2 separate regions of the Homo sapiens genome follow, and region 2 is linked to region 1. The links come from fine-mapping of genetic effects on gene expression. A gene starts in region 1. The other region holds a variant in brackets. All regions are shown on one strand. Distances are between the middles of the regions. Region 1 holds the start of FAM107B (family with sequence similarity 107 member B). Region 2 holds the start of LOC105376429 (a long non-coding RNA gene).

The links. PIP is the estimated chance that this variant, and not a neighbour inherited with it, causes the effect.
Region 2: its variant is fine-mapped to the expression of FAM107B in monocytes (BLUEPRINT, PIP 0.95).

What each region holds. Positions count from the first base shown.
Region 1 is chr10:14,768,215-14,783,926 of GRCh38, reverse strand. It overlaps FAM107B (family with sequence similarity 107 member B), which reads left to right and starts at 9,030. Exons shown (of 5, transcript NM_031453.4): 1 at 9,030-9,674. The coding sequence starts at 9,264.
Region 2 is chr10:14,650,984-14,666,695 of GRCh38, reverse strand. The region is part of intron 2 of FAM107B (family with sequence similarity 107 member B); the gene reads left to right. LOC105376429 (a long non-coding RNA gene) reads right to left here and starts at 13,949. Exons shown (of 5, transcript XR_930691.4): 1 at 13,863-13,949; 2 at 12,730-12,862; 3 at 11,531-11,666; 4 at 10,472-10,527; 5 at 6,115-6,760. It also overlaps the pseudogene RNA5SP302. RefSeq lists an enhancer at 6,560-6,649. The variant G/T (reference allele first, on the strand shown) is at 8,420.

The sequences.
Region 1 (15,712 bases):
GAATTCAGTGTGAGGATTAAAAAGAGGAGTAAAGAGAATTCCAGATTGTGAAGGCAGGGCAGTCTTGCTTCCAGGCAAACCCGATGACAGTCAAATCTAGTTTTGCAACACAATTAGGGCATTTTCACTGACCTCAGAAATGTTGGAGAAATTCTTACCAAAGGCTGGGTGTGGTGGCTCATGCCTGTAATCCCAGCACTTTGGGAGGCTGAGGTGGGTAGATCACCTGAGGTCAGGAGTTCGAGACCAGCCTGGTCAACATGGCAAAACCCTGTCTCTACTAAAAATGCAAAAATTAGCCAGGCATGGTGGCGGGTGCCTGTAATTCCACCTACATGGGAGGCTGAGGCAGGGGATCGCTTGAACCCAGGAGGCAGAGGTTGCAGTGAGCCGAGATTGTGCCACTGCACTCCAGCCTGGGTGACAGAGCCAGACTCCATCTCAAAAAAAAAAAAAAAAAAAATCCTTACCAAAAAAATGGAAGTGAATCCCCATTTTAAGTTCACTTTGATTTAAAAATATAGTCATGTGCTGGTTAACGACAGGGATACATTCTGAAAGACGTAAAATTAGGCAATTTCACTGTACAAATATCGCATGGATGGTAGAGTCCACAGCACACCTGGGGTATAGGGTATAGCCCATTGCTCCTAGGCTACAAACCTGGACAGCATGTGACTATACTGAATACTACAGGCAGTTTTAACACAAGTAAGTATTTGTGTATCGAAACCTAAAATACAGTATTATTATCTTATGGGACCACTGCCATGTATGCGGGCCCTTGTTCACTGAAACATTGTTACGCAGTGCATGAGTGTAAATATAGGGGAAGGGAGAGGATGTGAAATCAGACAATGGCACTGATCCTGGCCTTATCTACAACCACTGCTGTGTTTCTGGGTCTTATACCCCAGATCTGTTTCCTGCCCCTTCCTCTGCCCCTCCTGTCTTGGTTAGGTGACCTTCCTTCCTCCACACTGAGAAAGAAATGATGCTTCCTGTTACTTTCAGGGACTGATGTGGGACTCCTGAACTCCGTTGTGCGTGCTGTCCTGCTGGTACCAAGGCTAAGGCCTGGGAGCAAAGGTCGGTCTTCCCTTAGGGCAGAGGATGTTCTCAGCATTAATCATCTTGGGGCAGGAAATGACTAGCAAGGTGGCTCTTAGGAGAGCGAGGGAACCCAGGGCCTTATCGCTTAAGCCTAGATTCTAAGGAATCTAGATGAGCCTTTTTTTTTTTTTTTTTTTGAGACGGAGTCTCACTCTGTCGCCCAGGCTGGAGTCCAATAGCACGATCTCGGCTCACTGCAAGCTCCGCCTCCCAGGTTCAAGTGATTCTCCTGCCTCAGCCTCCCGAGTAGCTGGGACTACAGGCATATGCCACCATGCCCGGCTAATTTTTTTTTTTTTTTTTTTTTTTTTGTATTTTTGGTAGAGACGGGTTTTCACTGTGTTAGCCAGGATGGTCTCTATCTCCTGACCTTGTGATCCGCCCGCCTCGGCCTCCCAAAGTGCTGGGATTACAGGCGTGAGCCACCGCGCCCGGCCTATCTAGATGGGCTTGACAGGGGTAAGACAGTCCATGCTACCCAGATGCTGAACAGGAACTCGGCAGACCGGAAGCCCCGGAAGACCCTGCGACAAATAACCTGGGGGCTTTGGGGCACCGACAATGATGTTACCCAGCAAACAGTCAAAAAGAAAACTTTTTTTTAGAGAGGCATAATTGCCTTTTGTAATCAGCAAAGTCTGGTCATGCACCAAAGATGATTATCCGCTGAATTGTGCAGAAGGGGCAGTTGTGTCCCTTTTCTTGGGCTGGATTTTTAAGGCAGAGGGCAGTGCCTCCCGAGGCCACTGTGGCAGAAGCGATTAGCGGGATCCCCACAGAGAAAGTGAGACTCAGGAAACAAGGGGATGCAAGATCAGCCGGGCTTCCTGACTTGGGTCATTATCTTATTTCCAGGAGCCAGCGGGTTTCCTCACTGCACTCACCACACTCACTCATGTGCTCTACTGCCCTTTGGGCTCCAAGAGAGCAGGATCCTGGCTTATTTCACTCCAAGTAGCACCTGACTCAGAACCTGCTCTGCAGTGAGTTCTCAATCAATGATGTTTGAAGACATGGGCCCCAGTGATAGTGCTTTCTCTATGCGCTCTCTATGGAAAATGACAAATCTTCTTAAGGCATCCTGATGGAGGCACTGAATGGCTGAGATCCGCTCTGCTGGTCTCCCCTTTGGAGAGATCATTGGTGCCACATGCTTGATTTTCATCTGAGACCTCACCTAGAACTGAGCATGTTGGTGCCTTGTCACCTTGGGATGTTTCCATGCTATTTTTTTCTAATAGAAAAGTTAGTATTTGCACATGGTTAACAAAATTCAAACAGTACAACAGGGTATACCATGAAAAGCATCTTCCTCCCAAATCAGACCTTTAGTGTCCCCTCTCCGGAGGCAGAAGACTTCTTGGACATTCCTCTGAAGCTTTTCTACATAAAAGTAAGCACATACATGTATATATTTATATGGGTATATTTTTAGATATCCACATGTGCTTAACTTTTCAATTTGCTTTTGTCATTCAAAGTATTTCCTGGCAATTTTTCATATTGCCCCATGTAAGTTGACTTTATTCCTTTTAAATTAAAAAAATTCTATTAAGTAATACTTCTATATGATTTAAATATAAAACATACGTAAGAGTTTATAATAGAAGGAATCATCTTCTGCCTCATTTCCATTCTTCTTCCTTAAAGGCAACTGCTTATAACTGTTTGTCTTTAGTTTTTTTTTTGATAGATAGCACCGTAATATAAATCATATGTTTATATTTCTGTTTCTTAATTCATTGACTTAAAATATTATTTATTGACATTTTTCTATGATAGATGGATATCTCTCCCACTAACTAATATGCTTATGCCTCTATTTATCTGTCAACTTTAGACATTATCTATTGATTTTCTAATAAGATAGATGAGCGTTTAGCTACTTACTACACCCCATCTCCTCCCAACACTGTTCCATCTTTATTTCCAGTTTTCCCCTTGTCACTTCTGCAACATCAAACACCACACTTAAAACTTGATTGCTTTTTGTATCAACCATAGGAAGCATCGTTTGACTTTGAAATATAAGAATATTAGCAAACTCAACCTTCCCTTTGCTCATATCACCCCCTCCATAACAACCTTCCTATCGTTCAAAATCTTTCAGCTTTCCCTTTATTTTGCCACTGTCAAGTTGATAAAATTTTCATTCTCTTCTGCAACCATGGTGAAGGTTTCCATGATTTGCTGGTACACCTGAGTGATATATTGATTAGGACTCATTTAGTAGAAAGTGACAGAAAACTCAACTTGAAGCCGGTGAAGCAGGAAAATAAATTTATTTGCTTTACAACACAAGCAGCAATATGTAGGGATAGCTTCAGCCTCAGGTAAAGATTCATTCAAAAATGTTATCAGGACCCAGGTTCTCTTTCTCCAGCTCTTACATTCTTCTTTGTGTTGGCTGCAGCCTGGGTGAGTGTCCCCCAAGGAGTCAAGATATTGGCAGCTGCTTTTCCCTTCCCTTTCTCAGGTTTAAGTCCAGTAAATCCAATGGGAAGAAGAGAAAGTTTCTTCCAAGTAGTCCTGTTTGGGGATTTTTTTTTTTAACGGAGTCTCACTCTGTCATCCAGGCTGGAGTGCAATGGCGGGTCTTGGCTCACTGCAACCTCTGCCTCCAGGGTTCAAATGATTCTCCCACCTCAGCCTCTTGAGTAGCTGGGATTACAGGCATGCGCCACCATGCCCAGCTAATTTTTGTATTTTTAGTAGAGATGGGGTTTCACCATGTTGGTCAGACTGGTCTCAAACTCCTGACCTCGTGATCTGCCAGCTTTGGCCTCCCAAACTGCTGGGATTACAGGCGTAAGCCACTGTGTCCAGCCCGTTTGGGGATTTATTCTGATTGGAACCATGTGTTCTCACTCCAGTCCCTGAACAGGGAATAAGGGCAGGCTGATTACCTGACCCTGATCTCAGGTTCCTCCCCTGGAACCAGGCCTAAAGCCTCACCTAAAGCACTGAAGGGGTTTCCAAAGAGGAAATCAGGATGCTGTTACCAAAAGAAAAGGGAGAGAATGCTGGGTACCCTACAATAAGAAATTACCCACCTGAGGCATTAAACTCAAATGTCGTCGGGGTCCTGTTTGCAGAAATTTGGGAACTGACCTAATGAGAGATACAGAGAAGAATGGTTCCTGTGGCCTAAGAGCTGTGCAGTCATTTTTAAAAAATGTCATGAGCCAAACAAAATCTGTCTGGAGGCCAAATTGTTTTTGAGAGCCATCATATGCAACTGTTGGCCTGTATATTCCTTCTGAAAGTTGAGAAAATTGGACGGCATTTATATGATTACGACTATGTAAACAGTTTTTTAGGGCAGAGTGAGTTAATGTTTTAAAATTCTCTAGGATCCGTGTCATGTGACACTCAACAAGAATGTTGCTGGTATCAAGCTGCTAAGATTCTTTCCCTCTTACACTCCCCCAGGATCTTTGCTCAGAATCAATCTGCATTGTGACTTACGGTACACCTGCACCATCCTCTGAGTGACAGACCCTGTTGCCTGTCCAACTGCCATTCCCTCTTTCTTCCTGGCTAGGATCTTTTCTTTTGTTTACCTTGGGTGTTGTCATTTATATTGCAGTTCTGTCATAGGCAGTACTGTTCAAGATGCAGTGGGAATGCAGCCCAGCAGGTCTCAGCCTCATTTTACTCAGCCCCTATTCAAGATGGAGTCACTTTGGTTCGAAAGCGACTGGGTAAAATGAGGCTGACACCTGCTGGGCTGGATTCCCAGGAGGTGAGGCATTCTTAGTCAACAGGATATTTACAGTTAAGGGAACAAGTTAATAAAGTTCACTGAAGAGATTCAGGACTTAACAGACCCGGGAAATAACAGATCCAGGAAATGTCCTGATGTCCCGATATCTTAAGAACAAAAACATTCTTGGTTTAAGAGTAAGTTTTTCTTTAAAAATAATAATACAGATTCTTGCAGAAGACAGTAGTTACACCAAGGTTAACAACTGTTTGTCATAAGCCCCTGTAGCAGAGTACATCTCCCTCATGATTTTGGGCTTATATATAATATGAACAAGCATTGCACCTAAGGTGTTTCCTCCTCTTGCTTTCAGGAGTGCCCTGCTCTGCCTGTGGAGCAGCCGTTCTTTCAGTCCTCGACTTTCTTAATAAACTTGCTTTCACTTTTCTCTGTGGACTTGCCCCGAACTCTTGTGCAAGATCCAAGAACCCTCCCTTGGGGTCTGGATCAGTACCCCACTCCTTTCCGGTAACAGTTCTTCTCATATGTCTTGTGATGCTTTGTGATCTCTTTGCGTTTTTTAAATTTTTTATTTTTAAGACAGAGTCTTAAAATATGATGGTGCACAAGACATTTTTGAAGGCTTGGAGGTCACAGGAAGGGATTTAAGAAAAGAAAAATCCATTCTTACACCTGATTTCATTCACTCATTCATTTATTCATTCAATTATGTGCCAAGCCCCTTCTGGAGAGAATCAGCTGTTCACAGTGCAGCTTGCGAGGGGCTGCCACCCAGGCTCTGGAGTGCAGTGGGGCAATCTCGGTTCACTGCAACCTCCACCTCCTGGGCTCAAGCGATCCTCCCACTTCAGCCTCTCAAGTAGCTGGGACTTAAGACACTCACCACCATGCCCAACTGATTTTTAAAACTTTTTTTTTGTAGACACGGTGGCTCACTATGTTGCCCAGACGGGCCTTGAACTCTCCTGGCCTCAAAGGGCCCTCCCACCTAGGCCTCCCAAAGTGTTGGGATTACAGGCATGAGCCATCACGCCCAGCCAGATGTTTTCTTATATATGAACTTGTCTTCTATTGATTAACAATTAATTTTGTGATTACAAACTCTGGTGCTGCGAACATTCTGGGACATACATTTATGCACAAGTATATCTACAGAATAAATTCTTTTTTAAAAAAATTATTATACCTTAAGTTCTAGGGTACATGTGCACAACGTGCAGGTTTGTTACATAGGTATACATGTGCCGTGTTGGTTTGCTGCACCCATCAGCTCGTCATTTACGTTAGGTATTTCTCCTGATGCTATCCCTCCCTCAGCCCCCACCCCCTGACAGGCCCTGCTATGTGATGTTCCCCTCCCTGTGTCCATGTGTTCTCATTGTTCAACTCCCACTTATGAGTGAGAGCATACGGTGTTTGGTTTTCTGTCCTTGTGATATTTTGCTGAGAATGATGGTTTCCAGCTTTACCCATGTCCATGTAAAGGACATGAACTCATCCTTTTTTATGGCTGCATAGTATTCCATGGTATATATGTGCCACATTTTCTTTATCCAGTCTATTGTTGGTGGACATATGGGTTGGTTCCAAGTCTTTGCTATTGTGAATAGTGCCACAATAAACATACGTGTGCATGTGCCTTTATAGTAGCATGATTTATAATCCTTTGGGTATATACCCAGTAATGGGATGGCTGGGTCAAATGGTATTTCTAGTTCTAGATCCTTGAGGAATCTCTACACTGTCTTTCACAATGGTTGAACTAATTTACACTCCCACCAACAGTGTAAAAGTGTTCCTATTTCTCCACATCCTCTCCAGCATCTGTTGTTTCCTGACTTTTTAAAGATCGTCATTACAAAATAACTTCTTAGAGGTAGAGTGTTGGATCAAGGTCATTGGAAATGTCCTCTCTGGAGTATGTATCTGTGTGTGTGCACGTGCATGTGTGTTTTTGGAAAGCAGGATTGCATACTGAGAAAAGTATGAGCTCTGGGGCCAGGTTGCTGGACTCATCACCTTTTCTCATTTCCTTAAGCAGTGCTGTGACCTTGGGCAAGTTACTTAAGTTTCTGTGTCTTGGTTTTCTAATGAGTAAAAATGGGAATAATAATATCACCTTTCTTCTAGGGTTGTGAGGATTAAATGAGTTAATTTGCTGAGATTCATGTCTGATACCAAACACTCAATAACCATGGCCTGTTACTGAGTGTTATTCTAGGTCAGACTTAGCAACACACTAATCAGAAAGTCTACTGTTCTTAGCGGGCCAGTGCTGGAACTCCGATGAGTTCATGCGTGCCTCTGAGCACACCCACTGAGCGAGGAGAGGTGGTCCTCAGAGCCCGGATGCAAGCCCAGGGCCTCCGCAGACCTAGAAAGTGGCTCTGAGCTTTCTTCCTCAGCGGTCTCCTGAATGTGGCCGCTCGCAAGCTGCACTGTGAACTGCTGACTCTCTGTTCCAAAAGGGGCTTGACACATAATTGAATGAATATATGAATGAGTGAATGAAACCAGGTGTAAGAGTGCATTTTTCTTTTCTTAAATCCCTTCCTGTTACCTCCAAGCCTTCAAAAATGTCTTATGCAGCATCACAGCCCCGATTTACTATACGTGTGCTTGGAGGGGCACAGCATGGCACGACCCGACCCGAGTGGACTGTAGCAACCAAGTCAAATGGGAGACAAAGTGCAGTTCCGAGGGGTCTCCAGGAATATCTGGGAGGGGGGACCCTGGTAGAAACCTGAACCCCCTGATTTCTTATGGGTGGGGAATTTGGACAGCTTGCACTTGGGACACAATGAAAAAAGAATGAGCTCACAACCCTGGGAAGCCAGAAACAGCTTGGATAGCACGGGGCCTGCCACACGGTAACCTCTAAATAAATGGAAGCTTTCTATATTCTAACTTTCAGTAGAGACTAAAATAAAATGTGCATTTGATGCCATATCCACTCATTCTAAAGCCATATCTGCCTTTTTGTATTATGAATATGACTGTCCATTTAGAACAATATTTCCCGTATGGCCATTACATCTATAAAATGATTGTTAGATAGAATGAGACTCAGAGGACAGATAGGAGAACAGGGATCTCGGGCACCCAACAAGCCCTTCTTAGTGGCATAAACTTGCCTTAGTCACATGAAATTTCAAAGAATTGGTTTCTGCCTCTGTAAAACGGGAATCAGTGCCATAATATAATAACTACCACCTGTCTGGGCCAAAGAGCACATCTTGACATTAAATTAAAAGAGAGAGCAAACAAATTAATTAAGAGTGGGTAACATGCCCAGAAATCTTGACCCTAAAATCACTATTAACGGTAAAAGCATTACAGTATTACATTTCTATAACATTCCTAGCAGACAGTTGGCTAAGGAAAAATCTTGATTCTGAATTGTCTTAGAATATGTTTATAATTTATTATTTTTCACCATTCACATATTAATGTGTTGAGAAACAGAAGATCTATGTTCAAAAAGGAGTTACTTTCTGAAAGTAGGTGATATATACCATATAGGTAGAATACTTCACATGTACATAATACCTCCACACATAATAACATAATACATAAGGATAATTGTTAATGTAGGGCTCTCTTTTTTCTTTTTGGTATTGTTGAAAACTAATCAAGAACTTAGCCTAGCTAGTAAAAAAAAAAAAATCAAATTACCAAAGACCTATTTATAGTTATCAGAAAAGGCAATGTGGATCCTGAAACCAGGAAACTTGTTTTGAGGGTGGGGGGAAGATTCCGGGAAGATTCCGGAAAGATCCCGAAAAGTCCAGAAAGATTCAGAAAACACATCACACCGCATCTCTCCAGGCGAAAGATTGAGTCTACCTCCTATTTTAATAATGAAACAGCTGCTAGGGTCGTGGCCCTTCTAGGGGTCTTCATTTGTGATGGACAACTGGGTCGTTTTTGTTTTGTTTGGGGGAATAAATATTTGAAGGGGGGTAACCAAAGAAGGTTTTGCTGCTGTTATGATGTTATTGATACGCAGGCTGACGCTATTATGGCAGATGCTATCAGGCTACATTATCTTTATGCCTCCTAGGTAACCTGAAGCAATTGTCTATTGACTTGGCACTACCCTACCCTGAAGCGTCTGCCCTGCCTAGGAACTGTAACCGGAGCCACTCACATGCCTCCCCAACAGCTTTCTTTAGCCACTGACAGCATCACAGAAGGAAGAGCGCGAAATTGCCCAGGATGGACACTTTCAAAGGGGCCCCAGCGGCTAAGTGACTCTCAGGGAAGGTGGCCTTGCCATCCCAACTTCTATTTAGGGGCAACCACTAGCAAGTTCTTCTCTTCGGGCAATTGGAAAGAGTTCCTATAAGCAAAGTGGAGGTGATGTGGACCCCTGGAAAATTTCCTTGCCCCGTTTGAACTTTGCAATGATTCACTGCAAGTCATGTCCACGTGGAAAGCAAGACTCACCAAAAGACTGAAGTCTCCCTCTAGAAGCATGCATCCATTTCCGTGCTCAGCTCTGCTCGCCTGTTTTGGGAATACGAGGGAGAGTGCTTCCTTCAATCAGTCCGGCGTGGCTGATACTCATTCCACCGTCCGTGTGCAGCCTGTGGCCAAAGCAGGCAGACAGCCAAGACACCCAAGCGCAGAAGGAGCTCCAGAGAAAAGGCAAGATTCGAGCACCCATGCAGAGAGAAATGGCAGTGCGAATCGGAATTCAAGTCACCGCACTGCGGCCCAGCCCGCGGAGACGCCTGAAGATGTGCCCGGGTCCCTGGATGATGGGGCGGACTGTGAAGCAGTGGTGTTTCACGCTTCCATCCCCAGACCATCAATTATTGACACGCCCAAGGTGAGTGAGTGTTCGCTCTGCGATTATAGACGGGATGGAGCTGGAGGAGCGTTGGGATCATGTGGCGAATGTTTCAGCAAACAAACTCATTTAACCTTACTGAATAAGGCATTGCGGGCGTTCTCACTAGTGCGAAGAAGTGTGTTAAAGCCGTGTAGATTCTCAGAGTGTTCTCAAAAGATGTGGATGAGGCAATGATAATAAGCACTGGAGCCATGGCAATGACCGAAGGTAACCTTGAATTAACGGGCTAGGGTGCCTTAGAGCCAAAAATGGCTCACTCAATAACAGATTAGGAGTAAGATAGTTTACAAAAACATTTTTTTCCTTTTTCTATTTCCCCCTCCACCCCCACCGGTCTGTCAATTTATTTATATGAAAATCCACAATCTAAAAAGTTTGGCTAGGGAATTCACAAAACTGCCTCTACTTAAAATGAATCACATGATATCAAAGCAGTCTGGAAAAATTTGGAAATGATCATCAGTGTATGCCTAGTGGTACGGAAGGGAACTGACCTATAAAACTATTCATAATATGGATGTTTTTGTGATAATCTTCTGAGAGTTGAAGGCAGGAGGAGGAAGTTATTTAAAAAAAATGGTGCCACTGCTCTTAAGAGTTATTTACTTATTTTCTTTCCATTTTTGGCATCAGTGAATTTTAATTGTTGAGTATTCTGATTAGATGGAGCTGTACAATTATTTCAAAGTTCCCGGTAATCCCAGTTTGCAGATGCAGTGTAGAGGAAAGGTTTTCTAAAAGGTACACTCCAAAGATATCTCTTGACCATTTTTGGTCATTTCCTAGCCAAGTAGCTTAGGACCAGACTTAAAAAACTGAGAAGTCTTTGGGGATCCATCACTAAAGTATTCTGATTTTTTAAATCATTTTTCCACATCCGTTTAACAAATTATTTTTTGGTCTGGCTTGCTTCACAGAATCTAAGAAGCCTCCTTAGCAAGAACACAGCCAACCAGCAAAGATAGGGTTAAAACATCATTTAAAAAATAGTTTCATTTGACACCCTGCAGGTTTATATGAAATGACTGAAGCTTGGGTCTGTCGTCTGCATTCTGAAATTGGACAGAGAGTTTTACCATATCCTCTGTCACAGCAAAAACTGCTATGTTTTTTTCTAGCACCACTAAACCAAAGCCCATAACCAACCAGCAAAAACCAAAATTTTCAGTGTATAGCCACATCCAGATTAAGATATTTTTGGTAGTATTATAGGTAGCTGATTAGAATTCATGGCCAAGTTGATATTTGTTGGATATTTATGGTACCAATGATGTACAGTTTTAATGAACCGGAAGACTTTCTGTTGAGCAATGCAGACCCACCTTATATTACTGAAGACAGCCGCAAGAACAAAGGGTTACTTTGATTTTATCTTTCTGTTTTAGTTGCACATGGGACTCAGGGACTCAAGGCAAGCATGTGAATTCAAATAGAACCAATAACACAAAATGGGGCCACATCCATGTTTAGTGTCCACTTGGCAGGAGCAAAGCCATGGGTGGTCCACAGCGTAGGATGGATTACAGTTGGGAAGCCCGGAGCAGAGAGGACATTGTAACAATCCAGACAGGAACAACAGGGAGATAAAGTGGGAGGGGCTCCATGAGGCAGGACACGCGGCAGTTGACTGTGCGGTCCAAACCAGGCAGGGAGGGAAGCAGTGATGCAATGCAAACACTGAAATCAAGTGCCAGGAGGTGCAGGAAGAGGGCCTGATGTGGGTAAATGGGCATCTATTCTAGTTCAAACACCGAGAGCTAAGCTGTGCAGAGCACTTGTAGTTCGCTAGCCCTTATTCTAAGTGCTTTACACAGAGTATCTCAGCCAACCCTGGTGACAGTGAGGTGCATATATATATATATATATTTTTTTTTTAAGATGGAGTCTTGCTCTGTCTCCCAGGCTGGAGTGCAGTGGCACGATCTTGGCTCACTGCAGCCTCTGCCTCCCAGGTTCAAGCAATTCTCCTGCCTCAGCCCCACGAGTGGCTGGGACTACAGGTGCCTGCCACCAGGCCCAGCTAAGTTTTTGTATTTTCAGTAGAGATGGGATTTCACCGTGTTAGCCAGGATGGTCTCGATCTCCTGTCCTCATGACTCCCCCGCCCAGCCTCCCAAAGTGCTGGGATTACAGGAGTGAGCCACCATGCCCGGCCAGTGCATATTCTTATGGTGCCCATGTTACAGAGGAGGGCATGGATGCTTAAAGAGGGTAAGACATTTGCCCAAGGCCACAAAGAGAGGATGTGGCAGAGACAGGACTGGAACCCACTTCTGTTTGACTCCAAAGTCCATCCTCTGAATTATAATGTGCTTCTACTACTAATTAATTGTGTAGTGTTTGAGGATTTAGGATCAACTATTCATATGTGATCTCGCTTGATACTCAATCACATTTAAATATCATACATATTGGCTGGGCATAGTGGCTCATGCCTGTCACCCAGAGCTTTGGAAAGCCAAGGAGGGAGAATCACTTGAGACCAGAAGTTTGAGACCAGCCTGGGCAACATAACGAAGGTTCATCTCTACAAAAATGAATAAATTAATTCCATGTATTTATATGTTGATGTCGATATAATTATTATTTGTTTTTTAATTTATTTTTATTTGTTGTTATTTTAATTGATATATCACAGTTGTATATTTTTTGGGGTATGTATACATGTATAAATGTGTAATTAAATCAGGGTAACTGGGATATCTACCACCTCAAACACTTACCTTTTCCCTGTGTTGAGAACATTACAATTCCTGTCTTCTAGCTATTTTGAAATACACAATAAATTATTGTTAACTATAACTTCTCCACCGTACTATCGAATACTCGAATTTGTTCCTTCTAACTGTACTTTTGTATCCAGTAACCAACTCCTCTTAATGATATTCAATAACTATTATTATTTGTTTTTATTCATATGCTTTACCCTTTTCTACCATAGCTTCATGGTATATAACACCACAGAAGATGTCCATTTTGCATCCTGTGAGTGACAAAGCTTTGCCGCTGGCAGTGTGGGGGATTGCTTTGAGATCTTCTGATTAAAAGTGGCTTAGAACTGCCCAGATTTTTCATTACCAAGTGACTTTGCAATGGCATGTTTTCCCTTAGCAGATGATGAATGAGATGCTTTTATTACAATCTTGCCTGGCGGAAAAATATTTCCCTTTTGGATGCACTGATCCTCATTATTTAAGCTGCCTCTGTAGAGGCCACAAATAATCTTTTTTTTTTTTTTTTTTTTTTTTTTTTTAGTTCAGCCTCAGACATAAGGTAAGAAATGGGGACAAGCCCCTCTCTCTATCTTCAGTTACCTGATGTTCAGACAGGAGGGTGGCTCATTTATATTGGAAACAATATCTGGTTCAAGAGAGAAAGCTTGAGGTAATGAAGCTAAACAAACTAAGCAAATATGAAACATTTTTGTTTGGTTTAGTGATGAGCGCACATGTCTGTATTGAAGAAATGCTATTGATCAGTCTTCAACTTTTTGTATTCATCTCTTTTCTGTTCCAGACCTGAAACCAAAGTGATAACAACCCTAAAATGGGAATGTGTCTTATAATTGTTAGTACCTCTTAATGATAACTTTTCCCCTTCTTAGTGGTCTTGTAGTTGAAGTGTCATATCATTGATGGAATTGTAGACTCAACGAAATTCAGCAGTACTGCTGTTTATTTTATTTTATTTTTATTTTTATTTTTTTGAGGCAGAGTCTTGCTCCATCACCCAGACTGGAGTGTAGTGGTGCGATCTCGGCTCACTGCAACTTCTGCCTCCCGTGTTCAAGTAATTCTCCTGCCTCAGCATCCCAAGTAGCTGGGATTACAGGCGCCAGCCACCACGCCTGGCTAATTTTTGTATTTTTAGTAGAGATGGGTTTTCACCATGTTGGCCAGCCTGATCTCGAATTCCTGACCTCATGATCCACCCGCCTTGGCCTCCCGAAGTGCTGGGATTACAGGTGTGAGCCACCGCGCCAGGTCTGCTGTTTATTTTTTTAGTCAGTAGTTATTATGCTCTTCCTCCATGTGAGGATAGCATTAGCCCTGGGGAAACACTGATGATTGTGACTCAATCTGTGAGGTTGCTGATGTTCTAGTGGGAAGTTCCATTGGGTAAACAGGCAGAATCAATGCAGTATGAGAGGGCTTATGGCTCAGCACCGGATGGAATACAAACACAGGACGGCACTCCATGTTCAGCCTTGGGAAGAAGACAGGGGAAGACTAGAATACAGGGGCTTCGATCTTTTTCTGTTCTAATTGCGAATCCAACTTAACACTGCACCCAGCCAAGTTGAATGGTGCTGTTTCACTCCTCTCTCTCCCAGTGATGTACGCAGTGTGAGAAAGGGAGAGTTCACACACTAAGCAACTAAAAGTTTCAGAGTAGTTTGGTAGTTTGAGAATGTCTTCCTATAGCAGTTGTAAGTTCCATCTAGCTTGTACTTGAACTGGGAGTAGCCAGCCTCACATAGGAAGAGATAGTAATTGTAGTTTGGGAAATCATTTCTGGGGTTTTTAAATAAAGAGCCAATTGTGGCCGGGCGCGGTGGCTCACGCCTGTAATCCAAACACTTTGGGAGGCTGAGTGAGGGGTGAATCACGAAGTCAGGAGTTCAAGACCAGCCTGGCCAACATCGTGAAACCCCGTCTCTACTAAAAATACAAAAAATTAGCTGGTCGTGGTGGCGGGCGCCCGTAATCCCAGCTACTTGGGAGACTGAGGCACAAGAATTGCTTGAACCCTGGAGGCTGAGGTTGCAGTGAGCCGAGATTGCACCACTGCAATCCAGCTTGGGTGACAGAATGAGACTCCGTCTAAAAAAAGAAAAGAAAAACAAAAATGTCAGTTGTACAAAAGTGAAGGGAAACAGGGCCCATCTTGGAATTGACAACTTCATTGATTTTTGGAACAGGTTGGTTTAGCAACTGGGCAGAGAAGTGGTAACCAAGCCATCCTAGCACCCCAGCAGTGGCCTGAAGATTCACAGGCTCTGGTGGTTACTGAGCGTCTGAGCCTCAGCACTGCTGTCTCCAAACACAGTTTTGTCAGTCGGCTTTCTCTGAGAGAATAGAGACTCCCTGTGTTGCTGGATACAGCAGGGTCAATTTGATTTTATCTTCCTGTTTTAGTGACACATGGGACACAGGGGCTCAAGGCAAGCACTGTGTGTTAGAATAGAACCAATAACACACAGTGGGGACAACATCTGTAGTTACTGTCCACTTAGCAGGGGCAAAGTCATGGGTAGGTGTAGGATGGATTAGAGTCAGGAAGGTTGGAGCATCAAGGCCATGGTAATAAACCTAATAGGGACAGCAGGAAGATGAGGTGAGAGATAGTTTACAAGAGCCTGATGCGTAAGTCAGAATGCTCATTTAGTTGTAAGCTTTGAGCACTAATGGGTAGGGTTGCGCTGACTGAGCCACGTATTCTCCCCATTGGAAAATCACCAGTAAAGCGAAATGATAACCAAAAATTTGTTGGAAAGCATGGACTTAGAGGAAGGAGAGTGATTCATTTTATTGTGATAAAATACACATAACATAAATTTTACCATTGTAACTGTTTTAAAGTATATAATTCTGTGTCATTAGGCATATTCACATTGTGGTGCCACCATCATTCTTTTGCATGTAGATATCCAAATTTCTCAGCACCATTTGTTGACAACACTGTCTTTTCCCCATTGAGTGGTCTTGGCACCCTTGTTGAAATCATTTGACCATATATGTGAGGGTTTGTTTCTGAGATTTCATTCTGTTCCATTGGTATATATGTCTGTGACAGTACCACACTGTTTCGATTACTGTAGTTTTGTAGTGAACTTTGAAATCTCAAAGTGTGAGACTTCCAATGTTGTTCTCCCATTTCAAAGATTGTTTTGATCATTTGGGGTCTCTTGAGATTCTCTATAAATTTTAGGACGAATTTTTCTATTTCTGCAAAAAACATTATTGAGATTTTGATAGGGGTTGCATTAAATATATAGATATATTTGAGCAGTA
Region 2 (15,712 bases), 120 kb after region 1:
CACTGTCCCCTTGCAGATCCTTGTACAGATGGCTCAGTTCAAATGTCCTGTCCCAGAGAAAACGTTCCCAACCATCTTGGCATTCTTCCAAATCACTCTTCATCCCATTACACATTTTTTTTTCATGATTCTCATTCCAATCTGTTATGGTTTGGCTCTGTGTCCCCACCCAAATCTCACCTTGGATTGCAGTTCCCATAATCCCCATGTGTTGTGGGAGGGACGCAGTAGGAGGTAATTTAATCATGGGGGCAGTTACCCTCATGCTGTTCTCATGATAGTGAGTGAGTTCTCATGAGATCTGATGGTTTTATAAGGGGCTGTTCCCACTTCACTCTGCACTTCTCCTTGCTACTGTCATGTGAAGAAGGACATGCTTCCTTCTGCTTCCGCCATGATTGTAAGTTTCCCGAGTCCTCCCTAGCCCTGCAGAACTGTGAGTCAATTAAACCTCTTTCCTTTTTAAATTACCCAGTCTCTTGCAGTTCTGTATAGCAGCATGAGAATGGCCTAATACACAATCCAAAATAATCTTTCTGTTAATCTGTGGTTTATTACAATATTGTCTCTTAGAGAGCAGGGACATTACCAGTCTTGTTTAATGGCATCCCTAGCACCTTGGACAGTGCCTGATACATAGTAGTAATTCAGTAAATTTTTGTTAAGTGACTCCCTCATGTCCATTATGGGCAAGACACTCTCTTACTGTCTGTAGTGGGGGTACAGGTGGGGTAGGTTTGACATAGGCCAACACTATGCTATTTTAGATTTCTGCGATATGAAAAAAAATATGACATGGCACTTGCCCTCAAGACAACAAATTATGTTCGCAATATGAGAAATCATGTGAAGATATCTATATAATCAAAGTTCTGCTGGGAACACTGAGGAAGGAGCAATTCAATTTGCACTGGGAAGCAGGATCAAACAAGGCCCCTTGGGGTTGATGATACTTGTAATGAAGATTGGAGTTTGAAAGCCTACTTTCATAATAGGGGCATAGTAGGGGCAGTGGTGGAGCTTACATATCATACCTTTGAAAATGACTCTGAGTACCACTTTTGCACATTTACCCTTGATCTTTCATTTCTCAGCCAGAGAAGAAGGCTGGGAGGATGGTCATTGCTGCATCAATGCAAATTCAGCCAACTCAAAGGCTTTGAATTTCCCAGCTGCTGTTATAAATGCTTTTATTTGCTCTCTTGGCATAGTGCCCACTATGTTCTGAGAACATTTGTTCACACACGTTGGGAGGACATCATTACTCACTAAAGACTTGCTAAGAAATGAGATGACTTTACTGAGTTCTTTTATGACACCTCAGGGTGAGAAATTAGACATCCCATTCTGAAAAATTCTGCTAGGGTTCCCAGCTCCTTAGGCCCTCAGTATGTGTTACTAGAGATTCAGCAAAGTGGTAAAGATTTCCCTCAATAAATGCATTTGGAGTTGGACACCTCCCTCAAAATAAATCTGCAGAAAAGAGCAAATGAAGTGTAGGTAGACATTTAGAATCCCAATTTATCTGTGATCAGCAGGTATGGTTTTACATTATTGACACAATAAAAGGCTTATTACTTTCCCTTCTTCAAAAACACCTAAAAATGCTGTTGTCTAACTGGAAATTTCAAGCAGAAAATGCAGTTTCTCATTATTTCTTAAAAATGCTTGGGTCCGCAGACTTTGGGGCTTGCTATAGAGCTCCTCTTCTTTATTCAGGATTTATTCCTAAATGTGTGTCTTTGCATTGCATCTTGCTTTGGGTGTACTTGTGTTTCTAGTTGTAGTTCATTCTATCCAGATCTCCCATATTGATTAACCATTCTTTAAAATCCTGTTAGGTGTAAGTTGTGTCTGCTAAATTATTTGAAAAGTATGAACATATACTATATTCATTCAAAAAACTTTTACTGAATGTCTACTATGTGCTAGATATTGTAATAGGAATTATGCTATATAGTGAAGAATCTGAGAATGAGGAGGAGGATACATTCTGAGAAATGTGTCACTAGGCAATTTTGTCATTGTGTGAACATCATAGAGGGCACTTACACAAACCTAGATGGTATAACCTACTACACACTGAGGCTATATGATGTAGCCTATTGCTTCTAGGCTACAAACCTGTATGGCATGTTATTACACTGGATATTGTAGGCAATTATAACACAGTGGTAAGTATTTGTGTATCTAAACATATCTCACCATAAAAGAGGTACAGTAAAAAATACAGTAGTATACTCTTATGGGTCCACTGTTGTATATGTGGTTTGCTGTTAACCAAAACATTGTTACATGGCACATGACTGTATTTAGAGTGGTAAATACGACAGACTTGACTCCATCCCTCATGGAATGTATGGAAAGTGAGAAATACAGCCATTAGACAAATAAAATGTGAGTTATAGAGAAATGGTAGCCTTTAAATAGTAAAATGTAAGTTTTAGAGAAAGCAGGATACTATGGAAGTCTTGCCTTCACAGAGCTTCAGTCAAATAGAGCCTTTAAAACATGAACACAGAGAGCTAGGAGAAAAGGTAGAATACAGCATGTGCTGAAACAGAGACATAAGTAGGGGGCCAGGGAGCACTAAGGAGGTGAAAGAAACCCAGCTGGAGGAATCCAGGAAGTTTTTCAAGAGAATGCACCATAAGAGCTGGGCCTTGAAGGACAGAGATGAAATTCATTTGTGAAGGGAGACACGTCAGCCAGGGTGTTTATAAAGCAAAACCCAAATACTGTAAATTGGATTCCAAGTGATACTTGCTTGGAGTTCAGCCCATTTTTTTTTTTTTTTTTTTTTTTTTTGGCTGATGATCTAATTCTTGGGCATCTGACACTTCATCCTGAGTTCTATAATTTGTATTCATATTCGTAGGAGCCACCCACGTGATAATGACAGACGAGTTAGGAGTGTGCTCTGTCCTTACCACCATTGTTACTGTCTTCTGCCCTCAGATAATTGTGTCTGTATACATTGGAGGCCTTTCTTAGTAGGTGATTGAAAGATGGAACCTTAGTGCCTTTCCCGGAATCAGGTAGCATTTCCTTGTCACTTTGTGGATATACTAGCTTCATGGATACATTAGCCCATTTATAAGAACTTCCTTTTAATGTGATGCATTGTGGTTTGCTGTCAATGGGTACCCCATTTCAGCAAGAGAAGTGCTGGGCAGATTCTGCAGGGAGATGAAGTTTACCGTCTACGACCATACCACCCTGAACGCACCCAATCTCATCAGATCTCGGAAGCTAAGCAGGGTTGGGCCTGGTTAGTACTTGGATGGGGGAGACGAAGTTTACCTTCTTTTCACACCTGCACTTTCTATGTTCCAAGCCTCCTCAGTGAGTGTATTAGTCGAGTTCTCTAGAGGGACAGAACTAATAGAATAGATGCATATATGAAGGGGAATTTATTGAGGAGTATAGACTCACATGATCACAAGGTGAGGTCCCACAATAGACCTTCTGCAAGCTGAGGAACAAGGAAGCCAGTCCAAACCCAAAATCTCAAAAGTAGGGAAGCCGACAGTGCAGCCTTCAGTCTGTGGCCGAAGGCCTGGGAGCCCCTGGCAAACCACTGGTGTAAGGCCAAGAGTCCAAAAGCTGAAGAACTTTGAGTCTAATGTTCAAGGGCAGGAAGCATCCAGCATGGGGGAAAGATGAAGACCGGAAGACTCAGCAAGTCTACTCTTTCCTCTTTCTTCTTCCTGCTTTTATTCTAGCCATGCTGGCAGCTGACTAGATGGTACCCACCCAGATTGAGGGTGGGTCTGCCTCTCCTAATCCACTGACTCAAACGTTAATCTCCGTTGGCAACCCCCTCACCAACACACCCAGAAACAATACTTTGCATCCTTCAATCCAATCAAGTTGACACTCAATATTAACCATCACAGTGGGGTTCCCTCCTCTACACCTTCGCTTCCCAGTTTCTCTATCATCAGAAGGGCATGCACTCAGGCACATACACATTGGTGCACTGTGTCACCTCTCTCAGCCTATTGGTATGTTAAGCCTCAGATCTACTTATGAAATGAGAAGATGTGTTGGTTATGAAAGGGATTTTAAACATCAACAAACAGGTAAAGAAGGACAGAGATCAACCTGGGCATCATGGTGAGACCCAGTCTCTACAAAAAAATTAAAAAATTAGCTGGGCATGGTGGTGCATGCCTGTGGTCCCAGCTACTGGGGAGGCTGATATGGGAGGATCACTTGAGCCCAGGTGGTCGAAGCTGCAATGAGCCATGATTGTGCCACTGCACTCCAGCCTGGGTGAGAGAGCGAGACCCTGTCTCCAAAAAAAAAAAAAAAGACAGGTCAGAGGTCAGATGAAGGGAGAATTGCCTCCAGCAGCAGTTACACAGCGTGGTTGGTCACTTTCTCCACCTGAGCATAGAAGGCCCTGAATGATGGGAGCAGTCAATGAAGACTCCGTTCGACTGTGTGCTCCCCAAAAGCAGGGATTATGTCTATTTAAAAGTGAGGTGAGGTTCTTTATTGCAAGGTGCCATTTTAAAGATGCGTTGCAATCCCTTCTATATAATATTCAATGCAAAAATAAAGAACATGTAAAAAACTGAACCTGGGCTATGTTTATAACTCCACATAGGGAGAAGGAAGAATGAGGTAATGGTGATACATTGGGTGGAGACTCTGCAGAGGAAAATTTTCCATACTTAAGAGTTCCTATGATGTGGTCAGGATGCTGTTCTGATAATAGAGACTAAAACAAAGATCCTTTACTAATAGTGACAAGGGAAAGGCCACAATGCCACAGACAGAGAGAACTGCATGTCAGCGAGAAGGCACAAATTGAAGCCTCACTATGTGACTCTCTGAGGGTGAGCCAGTTATTCGAAGTTGCTGAGGACAGGGATAGTCACTGGTTTACCTGTTCTCACCTGGGCTTATGCCTCATTTCTCAGCAGCTGCCAAACCAAAATCATTCTCTTCCTGAACTAGTCAGAGTTCTCCAGAGAAACAGAACCACTGGGACATAGATATAGAAGGAGATTTATTATGAGGAATTGGCTCACATGATTTTGGAGGCTGAAAAATCCCACGATCTGCCCTCTACAGACTCGAGATCCAAGAGCCCCAGTGGTGAAATTCTAGTCCAAGTCCAAAGGCCTGAGAACCAGGAGAGCCAATGGTGTCAGTTCTGGAACAAGGGCAGGGAAGACTGATGTCCCAGCTCAATCAGTCACACAGAAAGAAGAAGGAGAGAATTCCTCCCCCTTTCCCCTTTTGTTCTATTCAGACCCTCCACAGATTGGGTAATGGCCACCTACACTGGGGAGGGTGATCAGCTTCACTGAGTTTACTGATTTAGATGTTCAACTCATCTGGACACACTGTCTTGGACACATCCAGAAATAATGTTTAATCTGGGCACCCCTTAGCGCAGTCAATTTGACACAGAGAATCAACCATCACACTTTTCTGGTAAATTAGTCCGTTCTTGCATTGCTGTAAAGAACTACCTGAGACGGGATAATTTATAAAGAAAAGAGGTTTAATTGGAACACAGTTCTGCAGGCTGTACAGGAAGCGTGGCTGGGGAGGCCTTGGGAAACTTACAGTTGTGGCAGAAGGTGAAGGGGAAGTAGGCAGGTCCTACATGGCTGGAGAAGGAGGAAGAGGGCGAAGTGGAAGGTGCTACATACTTTTAAACAACCAGATCTAGTGAGAGCTCACTATCACAAGAACAGGGGAAAATCCACTCACATGATCCAGTCACCTCCTGCCAGGCCCCTCCTCCAACATTGGGGGTTACAATTTGACATGAGGTTTGGGGAAGGACACAAATCCAAACCTCATGACCTGGGTAGCATCTCTTTCCTTTTTCCTTTCCATGGTATGTGTTCCTTTTCTAGAGCCTTCTATGGGTTGCTCTGCCTTTTTACTTTAGAAAGAAAGTTCTAGAATGAGGCTTCATTTACTCTCTTCTTATTCCACCAAATGGCTCTCAGAATAAGCCAAGCACCATGCACATATACCACATGCAATATACAAAAGCATTGGTATTGAATAAGATTCAATTGAATATTTGAACAATTTTAGCACAAAGACTCAGGTTTGTAGGTGACATACAGAAACTACGGATCCTTCACTTACTAATTTTATTTGTAACCAAATGAGTAGAAATTACATAGTACCACTTTTATAGAGAGAGGGAGATTAACAGTCTTTCAGAGGTGGCACATCTTGTCTTCATTCATTCATTCCCTTGTGGGCAGGGAGATGGATGAATGGGCCAACCATGCTTTCTTGAGATAATTCTTTTTGAAAATAAGTTGCATTCTTTCTAGTGGCCATTTTTTTTTAAGTGAAATGTGTTTGAAAAACGTTGGCTTCAATTTGCCATTCCTCTTAAACCATGCATTGCTTTAGAAACAGGCCAGGTTTTTTTGAATGCTGAAACAAGTTTCCAATAAGTGTACCATTCCAGAAGACCTTGTGGAATCCTCATTCTCTTTTAGGTTGCACTCAACCTGTGCTGCCAGGACCTCAAAGATTACACCACTTGGTCATACGAGGGGAGAATCCTGTAAGTTGGAGGCTGTTGGTTATGGTCAAAGGGTTTCATCAGAACACCCTCTTTTTGCTAAAGGTCACCTAGAACTGAGTGGAGCCCAGCACATTTTCGGAGTTGGCTGTCTGTGTCATCTGCATTTAGTCAAGTTTCATTTCCTGTGGTTTGTAGATTTCTTAAGTGTGAAGTAACGAACCCCAAACAGTTAAAATTCTTTACCTAAAAATGGATGAAATGAGAAAAAAAAATAAGTATTTTTGTAACTTCTGTGGGGAAGTGAGACTGGGGTTCCACTGAGCAGTTCCTTGTTGCTGCGCACATAAGGCCAGCCCCTCTGCGGGAAGGTCCATGACACTTGGAGTTCAGATCTCCTTGCTGGGCATCTTAGGAGGTGACAAAACGAGACCCATTTTCTGACAATTCAGACAAAGTGTCTGCTTTTACTTTCATGTCGTGGGAGAACAGTCAACAGTGCAGTTTCCACCAGAACCCACTATATCTCAGTCACACACCCCTCTGATTTTGTGCAAGAGTTGTTTATCTTCCATACAGATTTTTCTGAGTCTTTGGCCACAGATGAACAGAAAACAGTTGAGGTAGGAAGGTGAGAAAAAAAGAAGGGAAACTTATCCTGAGTTTGCTTTCTTTCCATTCCCTTAACCTTAGGGCAGACAGTTTTTTGTTTGCTTGTTTTGTTTTGTTTTGTTTTGTTTTGAGACGGAGTTTTGCTCTTTCACCTAGGCTGGAGTGAAGTGGGGCAATCTCAGCTCACTGCAACCTCTGCCCCCTCCCCACCAGCAATTCTCCTGCCTCAGCCTCCGGAGGAGCTGAGACTACAGGTGCGCGCCACCATGCCCAGCTAATTTTTGTATTTTCAGTAGAGACGGGGTTTTGCCATGTTGGTGAGGCTGGTCTCAAACTCCTGACCTTAGGTGATCCACCCACCTCAGCCTCCCAAAGTGCTAGGATTACAGGTGTGAGCCACCGTGCCCAGCCAGGGCAGACAGTTTGAGGGTTCATGGGAGGCCTTTAATTACGGAAAATGCTACTGGGGATAGTAGAGGACTTTTAGTGAAGACCTGGTCCCCAGACTCTTTATGGGACTTTTTGGTCTGCACAGCTCCTTCTGTTGGGTCTTTGTTTTCAGTGAGAGCTTCCTTGACCACTTTCTGCAAAACTGCAACCTTTCCTTCAACTCTTACTTCCTTGTTTGTTTTGGTTTTTGAAACCACTTGTCACTATCCACACATTATATAATTCACTTGCTTTTTGTCTGTCGTCCCCTTCTAGAAGGTAAGCATCATGAAGGCAGGGATGTTTGACCATTTTTTGTCCTGCTGCAAACATAATGAATGCCTAGGATGGAGCCTGACATATAGGAGGCACTCAGTGAATATTTATTAAATGGGGAATGAACCCTTGCTCTTTTTAAACTTGCTGAAGCAAGTAGATGAATCAATCACTTCTTGGCCTTTTGGCTAAATCAAGTGAAGCAGATGAGTCAGAAACTGGAATTGCGTCTTTTTCTCTTTGTTTTCTGCCCCCAGCTCCTCGCACAATTCTTGGACTATGTAGGAACTGAAAAGTAATGGTTGTTTGACTAAAGTATGCATGCATGAATGAATGATTGAGTCTGGTTTACAACGTGACTTTTGATGTAAAAACTGTTGTTTATTTGGGTACTTAACACATATAAAGCAAACCATGCTAATCCACGGAGAGTCAAAGATGAGTCAGACATGGGTCAGACATGGGTCTTGCCTTCAAGATGCTAAATAGACTTCCTTTGTCCTGAGTTTACTTTCTTTCTGTTCCCTTAACCGTAGGACAGTCTGTGGGGTCACAGGAAGTCTTTTCTTAGGGGAAATGCTCCTGGGG[G/T]TTGTAGATGATGACTTTCAGTGAAGACCTGACCTCTAAACTCTTTTATGGGACTCAACTATCATAGCTTGTATTTTAGTCTAAAGAATCTCAACATTTTGTCTCTATTTCAAATAATAGTAATTGGATTTTCACTGTCGTATAAATTCTTCCCAAGAAATGAAGGTTAGCCAGGTGCTAATTACGCCTGTAATCCCAGCACTTTGGGGGGCCGAAGTGGGTGGATTGCTTGAGCCCAGGAGTTGGAGACCAGCTTGAGCAACATGACAAAACCCCAACCTACAAAAAAAGAGAAAACATTAGCCGGGTGTGGTGGTGTGTGACTGCAGTCCCAGCTACTTGGGAGGCTGAGGTGGGAGGATCTCTTGAGTCTGGGCTGCCAAGGCTGCAGTGAGCTGGGATCGCGCCACTGCACTCCAGACTGGGCGACAGAGTGAGACCAGCCTCAAAAAAAAGGAAAAAAAAAAGTGAAGGTGGCAACATGCTTGTTGCTGGAGGTTTATTAGAAGAACATAGACATGAAAGTCATACAATCCCTGTTCCAAGAACTTAAAACACCAGTGAACAAGAGGCCACGGGCTGTAATATATATTAACAAAGAGAAAATGTTTCTAGAACTCATTTATAAATCTTGCATTATTAAGTGTAAGTAGGAGAAAGTTGGTTGGTTTTCCATCTAGGTTCTAGATTTATTTCCACATGCTAAGTCTGTGGAAATTGCCCTGGAATCCAAGGAGATGTTTCTCTGGTGACCAGGGGTGGGGGTGAAGATTTGGGGCTGGAGGTGTCTGTCTTTGGGAGGGTAAGGCCAGCAATGGTATGCTCCTAGTCTGAAGTGAACGAGACTTCCTGGCCTGCCTATTTCAAGATGTGCCAATCTGTGTCCAGTCCTCTGCCATTTTGCCTTGAGAAGGTGTCAGGCTAATGAGATAGGATTTCCAAGTACAAAGCACCCTCCTAGGCCGAATCTGTTAAGTGGTGTTACCACTCAGGGTTTGGAAACCCTGTCATTCATCCTCCTCAGAGTCATTGGAGAGCAGTCTGTGCTTTCCCCTCTCTACATGGGCAGAGAGCAAATTGCTTCCAGATTTTTCTGTTTAGGAAATTTAACAGATCATTTATTGTTCATAAATGGGAAAATACAAAAATACCTAAAATGAGGGTTTGATTTAGTCCTCTGTATTCAAGGTGAGCCTGATGTGGTGTTGATGGACTGGGCACATGTGCCTTAAAGAGGAGCTGAGCTGCACCTGTGCAGCAAGCTGTTTAGCCTTGACATTGTGCTCACATGCCCATGGGACACCTCAGTAGTCTAGTTAGTATGACCTATTCTTCTCCATCCAATCCTATGTCCTCTTAACACAGTGGGAATGGAGGCATGGAACTTTCCAGAAGTTTGCCCAGGTTGTAAGGTGAACCAGTTACCGGTTACCAGGAATGAAATTTTCAGTGTGCACAAATTGAAGCAGAATTGCCTAATTTTTTGTGTGTGCTGCAAGCTGCGTTTCTACACTCTTTCACTTTCTTTTACTATTTTCTTATTTGTTTGTTTAAAATTTAATGTTGGCCCTTTGTAAAAATTTCTTAGAGAAGGAGGAATTCTGAAGGTGACATTAACATCCAAAATCAGAAGTAAAGTGATGATCTTTAACTGTTTGCATCCTGGAGGAATCTCTCTACCCACTTCTTACTTCTCACTTCCTTCCCCCACATTGGTATAAAAAGAAGAACTTGTATTGCATGCCAGGAACCCGAATGTCCAGTCACTTGTCTCCTTGGAGTGCACCTCTCCTTCCATTCTGATGACATGGAAGGTGGAAATTGTCATCTAGAAATTTCAACTGGTGGTCACAAAGCCTCCCAAGAGAGAAAATCCAAAGTTTTCAAATCTCAAAGATGGTAATTGTTGGCGTTGCTTTTGCAATTTACCCATGTTTTCCTGAAAACCTTCAAATGAAGTGAAATTTTGGCCCTGGAAGTTCCCTGTGAAGTCAGCCTCTTTATCGCCCCCATGCCCCACACTGGTTCGGAGTGGTGTAGGAGCCACCTTACCTTGCTCTACTCCTCAGTGTTTCCTGGTAAATCAGTTGCTGCTCCAGAATTTGTATCTAGGAGGAGCACAGGGGCCAGAACAGGTTGAAAAGACATTAAAGGACTTGTCCTAAAGTCGTTCCTGCACAGCGCTTTATGGAAGATGAGAAAATATCAATTGTTTATATCAGCGATGGGGAGGAGGAGCTGATGAAGTTGGAGTGCATGGCCGACACTCAGCACCCAGCCCCTCTCCCCTTGCCCTTCACTTCAGTGCCTGTGACCCCACTTCTGGCACCTGCATGCCTCTCTGTAAAGGCTTCCTCTCACCCCAGAACCTGCCTCAAGCCCCTGAGGAGTAATTGTCACCCAATCCCTGATCAGACTTTGTGAATAAATACTGCAGCTCACTTTCCCTAGGGTAGGTAGCTGTGGAGCTGGCTCCCAGGGATCCCCAGGAGGGTTAAGCCTCAGTCCCTACAGGAGTAGCCAGCTGCATAAATCCTGTGGTGGCTGCTTTCCCTCCCCTGTCCCGGCTTCCCACCTCTCCTCCTGTTCCCTTCACATATGAACTGCTTCTCCCTGAATCCCTGCCTCAGGGTCTACTTCTAAGGGAACCTGAACTAAGAGAGGGTCCCTTGGCACAGTCACTGTGTTGAACACAACCATAACATATTTTAAAACGTTTGTGCCAGCTACTCGGGAGGCTGAGGCAGGAGAATCGCTTGAACCTGGGAGGCGGAGGTTGCAGTGGGCCAAGATTGCGCCACTGCGCTCCAGCCTAGGCGACAGAGCAAGACTCCGTCACAAAACAAAACAAAACAAAATATTTGTGAGGCTGAGATAGAAAAAAAAGAAAAGAAAACCCTATCAAAAATAATTAAAACACTAAATGCAAACTATCTTCTTTGACTACTTACTACTGCTATGGTTTGGATATTTGTCCCCTCCAAATCTCATGTTGAAATTTGATCCCCAGTGTTGGAGGTGGGGACTAAAGGGAGGTGTTTTGGTCATAAGTGCAGATCCTTCTTCATGAATGGCTTAGTGTCAATCTTGATGGATTGACGGAGCTCTCACCCTTATTTCCCATGAGATCTGACGGTTAAAGAATCTGGCACCTCGTTCTCTCTCTCTTGCATCCTCTCTTGCCATGTAATCTCTGCACATGCCAGCTCCCCTTTTGCCTCAGATGCTGGTGCCATGCTTGTACAGCCTGCAGAACCATGAGTCAAATCAACCTCTTTCCTTTATGAATTACCCAGCCTCAGGTATTTCTTTATAGCAATGCAGAATGAACTGAGACACTACCCCACAGACTGGTTAAAATGGTAGCATTCTCAAGCTTCTTAAAATTCCTTTTCTGAACACAGTTCTCTGACCTTTTCTGAACACAGTGTTCTATGCATCCACTGAGGGGCATTTAATGATTTTAATGATTAGTAAAAGGGAACGGGATTTTTTCACCTTGAAGTTGACTATCGCAAAGCATATCTACTTAGTTACTGGTGTATTTCAACTCAACTTGAACATGCTTATTTGAGCGTAAGAATGGACTTAAATCATAAAATCATTTATTTTTGAATTACCCTATGTGGGCCAAAATATTTGGATTAAATGCTGTTTGTTTCTGTGCAAAATGGAATACATAATCAGATATTTTGTTTTGAGCCTTAAACAACAGCTAAGAGTCTTAAACGAAACTAGCTAAGATCACCTCTGATTTCTTATCCTTCACCACAGAGAGATGATGAGAGCAAGAGATAATAAAACGCAACAGCAATATGTTACTAAAGACCTTTCTCCAATGAATTATGGCTTTCATTAATGAATTAATGCATAGCTGTAATTAATAATTAGGGTTAATATGCGGTCTATATTCCACACAGATATTCAGAAAATAGGAAGTAATTCTGAAGACCCGAAAGGTTATTTCAACTGCTTATGACTGATGTTACAACCAGAGCAAACTCAGCTGTAGATGTGTTTTTGTGGCTTGCAAATTTTTTGAAAATTGGTTGCCAATGTTTAAAAACTGGAAAATTTCATGTAAAAATCTAGGTTCCAATTTCTCTTGAGAAATTGTAAGAACTAGCCAAACCAGGCCTGCATTCCTAAGCAGTGGAAAAAAAAAAAAAATCAACTGGAGTTGCCTTTTTAGCTGGTACCTCCCTATCCTGCCTGGCCCCTGCAGGCATTTGGGGTTTAAATGCCAGGCTTATGACGTTAGAAGAAATATGAGATGAAAGGAAGAAACACAAACAAATAATAAACCTTACAGTTTTCAGGCAAGAAGAAACTCTTCCTTGCATATTTACAGTTGTGTGGACAGTGTTGTGTTTTTGCTTGTTTGTCAGAAATCTCTTCCTTGGCTGTGGTCTGAGGAGCAGGTAAGATCGTGTGGGGTCATTGCTATGGAAACAGGAGAAAACACTAGCCTCAAGCTTGTGGGCGTTACCTCACCCAGTGATCTTTACACAATTCCCTGAAGTTTCCCGCGGTTACATTTTACTGTGTATAAGAGGCTAATACTATACTTTTTAGGGGCATTTTTGTGATTTCAGTAATGAATAATTACAAAATATTTTGCAACTGTGCATTGCCACCAAGGAAATGGAACCACATGGATGACTGTGGCTGCACAGCTAGAAATAACAGTTCTAGCTTGCACCATGATGGCACAGGTGCTTAGAGGTCTCAGGAAAAGTTCCCGAACCATGGGCTTTTCTCCCAGAGCTCTTCCTTGAAAGGGGAACTGAGAGGCCACTGTGTGCTCCTGAGAGGCTGGAGTGAAGAACAGCTTCTGTTCTTGCTCAGCAAGGCTGGTGATGTGAAATTGCCTTTGAGAGCATTTGCCCGCCTGGCTGTGTGCCTGGCACCTTTTAGATAGATTTCGATCAGCATAACTCCAGTGTGCATGGTAATCATGGAAATTTTCAGCTTTCTTCTCCAAGGAGAAACTGATAAAAAGAACAAACTGCCCTTGGCTTTTTCTGAGCCATGGAAACAGAACAGTTCTAAGACTCAAAAAGTCAGGGCACATTTTGCAAAGGCCTGATTCTAGTATTTGGCCTTAATTGTAAATACCGTGGCAGTGGACCATTAGGTCACAAGTGTAATTTGTCCATGTGTTCATTCAACATTTATGGAGCCTTCTCTCTACTCAGGGATTGCGAGTTTTGCCTTCTTGGTTTTGTGTTCAGCCAAGGCCAGTTATGACGCTCAACCCTGATGGCCATGTTTCTAGAAGTCCATGCATCACATTTTTTTCTGTGCCTGAATTCGTTTCATGACTGCTATGCTGCAAGTGGGCTCACAGTATGTGGTTTCTCCCAACAACCTGAAAGGGCTTAAAGAAAATGGATAATTGCATTAACTCCTTCGGATGACTATAACTTTCTCAGTTTCCTACCAATTCTAGTCCACTGGTGGTGTCCTGAGTTAATCTGGTCCAGCTGCGGTATTTGATTTTAGCACATTCAGGAGCGTATTACCTTAAATAGTCTTTTCTCACAACTGAACACAAAACGTCTGGTATCCACGCTACCCTTGATACTATAGCAATAACAATGCTAACATTTTCTAAGTAGTGTTCTTAGAACACTTAGAACAATGCATAACGTGCCATGCTAAGTGCTTTACATGGATTTTTTACTTAATTCTCTTAACAGCCCTAGAAAGTAGTACTATATTTTCTCCCCTTTGCAGGTAAGAAAACTCAAGCTTTAAAAGTTAATTTAACCAAGGTTGCATGGCAAGAAAGAGCTGGAGCCAGGACTCAGTCCAGGCCTGGTTGAGTCCAAACCCCTATATTTTCGTTATTTCCGCAGCTCTGCAAAAACCAATACGTATCTGGACAGAGTTGAGAATTTCTCTCTATAGTGAGAGGGTTGATTTTGTATCTTTCTGACTTAGTGAGTTTATCAGCAGGGATCTGGGATCTGGTGCTCTTTAGAAAGCCTAACCCTCCTGGTTTCTGTCAGGAAGGAGCTCTGCAGGAGGGTGAGCTCATGGAATTTTCCATGTGCATAGAAAGTCATGCTTTGATTGAGATGAAGTATAGAAATAAGAGTCACTGCTTTTTTTTTTTAACATTTGAAGTTGAATATCTATGTTTTAGATCTGACTTCACTCCATCAAAACATTATGTTTAACTCTGGTAGAATCAAAGACAACAAACATCCCTCGAACTTGGCCCTTCTCTCCGACTGTACAACTTCTGTTTATGGTGCTACCCTCCATCCTGGCTTCAAGCTTCAAGGTCATGTTGGATTCCTTCTTTCCACTTCACCTCTGTATGAATCTTATTGAGTTCCTTTGCTGTATTTCTCACACATATTCCTAATTTTCCAGTCTTGGTATCACACTCTGGTTTGGGTTATTATTCTCTTACACCCAAACCATTTTCATCATCTCCTAACTTGTCTTTCTGTGTCCAGGCTTTACCTGTTCTTATAAACCCTACACACCGTCAGATTATCTATTCGCCTATTAAAATCCCACCTAGCCTTGAGGGTGCAAGTCAAATTCTACAGTCTCAAGGAAGTCATTAAGTACCTACAAAAAAGTAATCTCCCCAGTCCCCTTCTTATGGCTCATAATTTACGGTTATGTGTGGATATATCTGTTTTGTTTTGTTTTTTGAGACGGGGTTTCACTCTTGTTGCACAGGCTGGAGTGCAATGGCGCGATCCCAGCTCACTGCAACCTCTGCTTCCCAGGTTCAAGCAATTTTGCCTCAGCCTCCTAAGTAGCTGGGATTACAGGCATGCACCACCACGCCTGGCTCATTTTGTATTTTTAGTAGTGACGGGGTCTCTCCATGTTGGTCAGGCTGGCCTCGAACTCCCGACCTCAGGTGATCTGCCCGCCTCAGCCTCCCAAAGTGCTGGGATTATAGGCGTGAGCCACTGCGCCCAGCCATGTGTGGATATATCTTATCCACACATGGCAGAGATGGCCAGATGTTTATCCAATATTCATATTCTTTAGCCAGAGAATCCTAATATTGTCAAGTGCAGTTATAGCCCAAGCTCTAAAACAATATTTCCCAGGCTCCTTATAGATAGGGCTGGCCAATGATATACTAGCTAAAGTTGTCAAGTGGTGTCTTAATTTGGTTCCCCCAGAAGTAGACCCTGAGACAAGGATTCTAGTACAGCTTGCTTAATTTGGAGGTTGTCTCAGGAAGCGTCAGTAGTAGAAAGAGGCCAATAAAGCATTGCTTATTAGGAAGAGTATCATTTTTGGTGACTGGAGTTT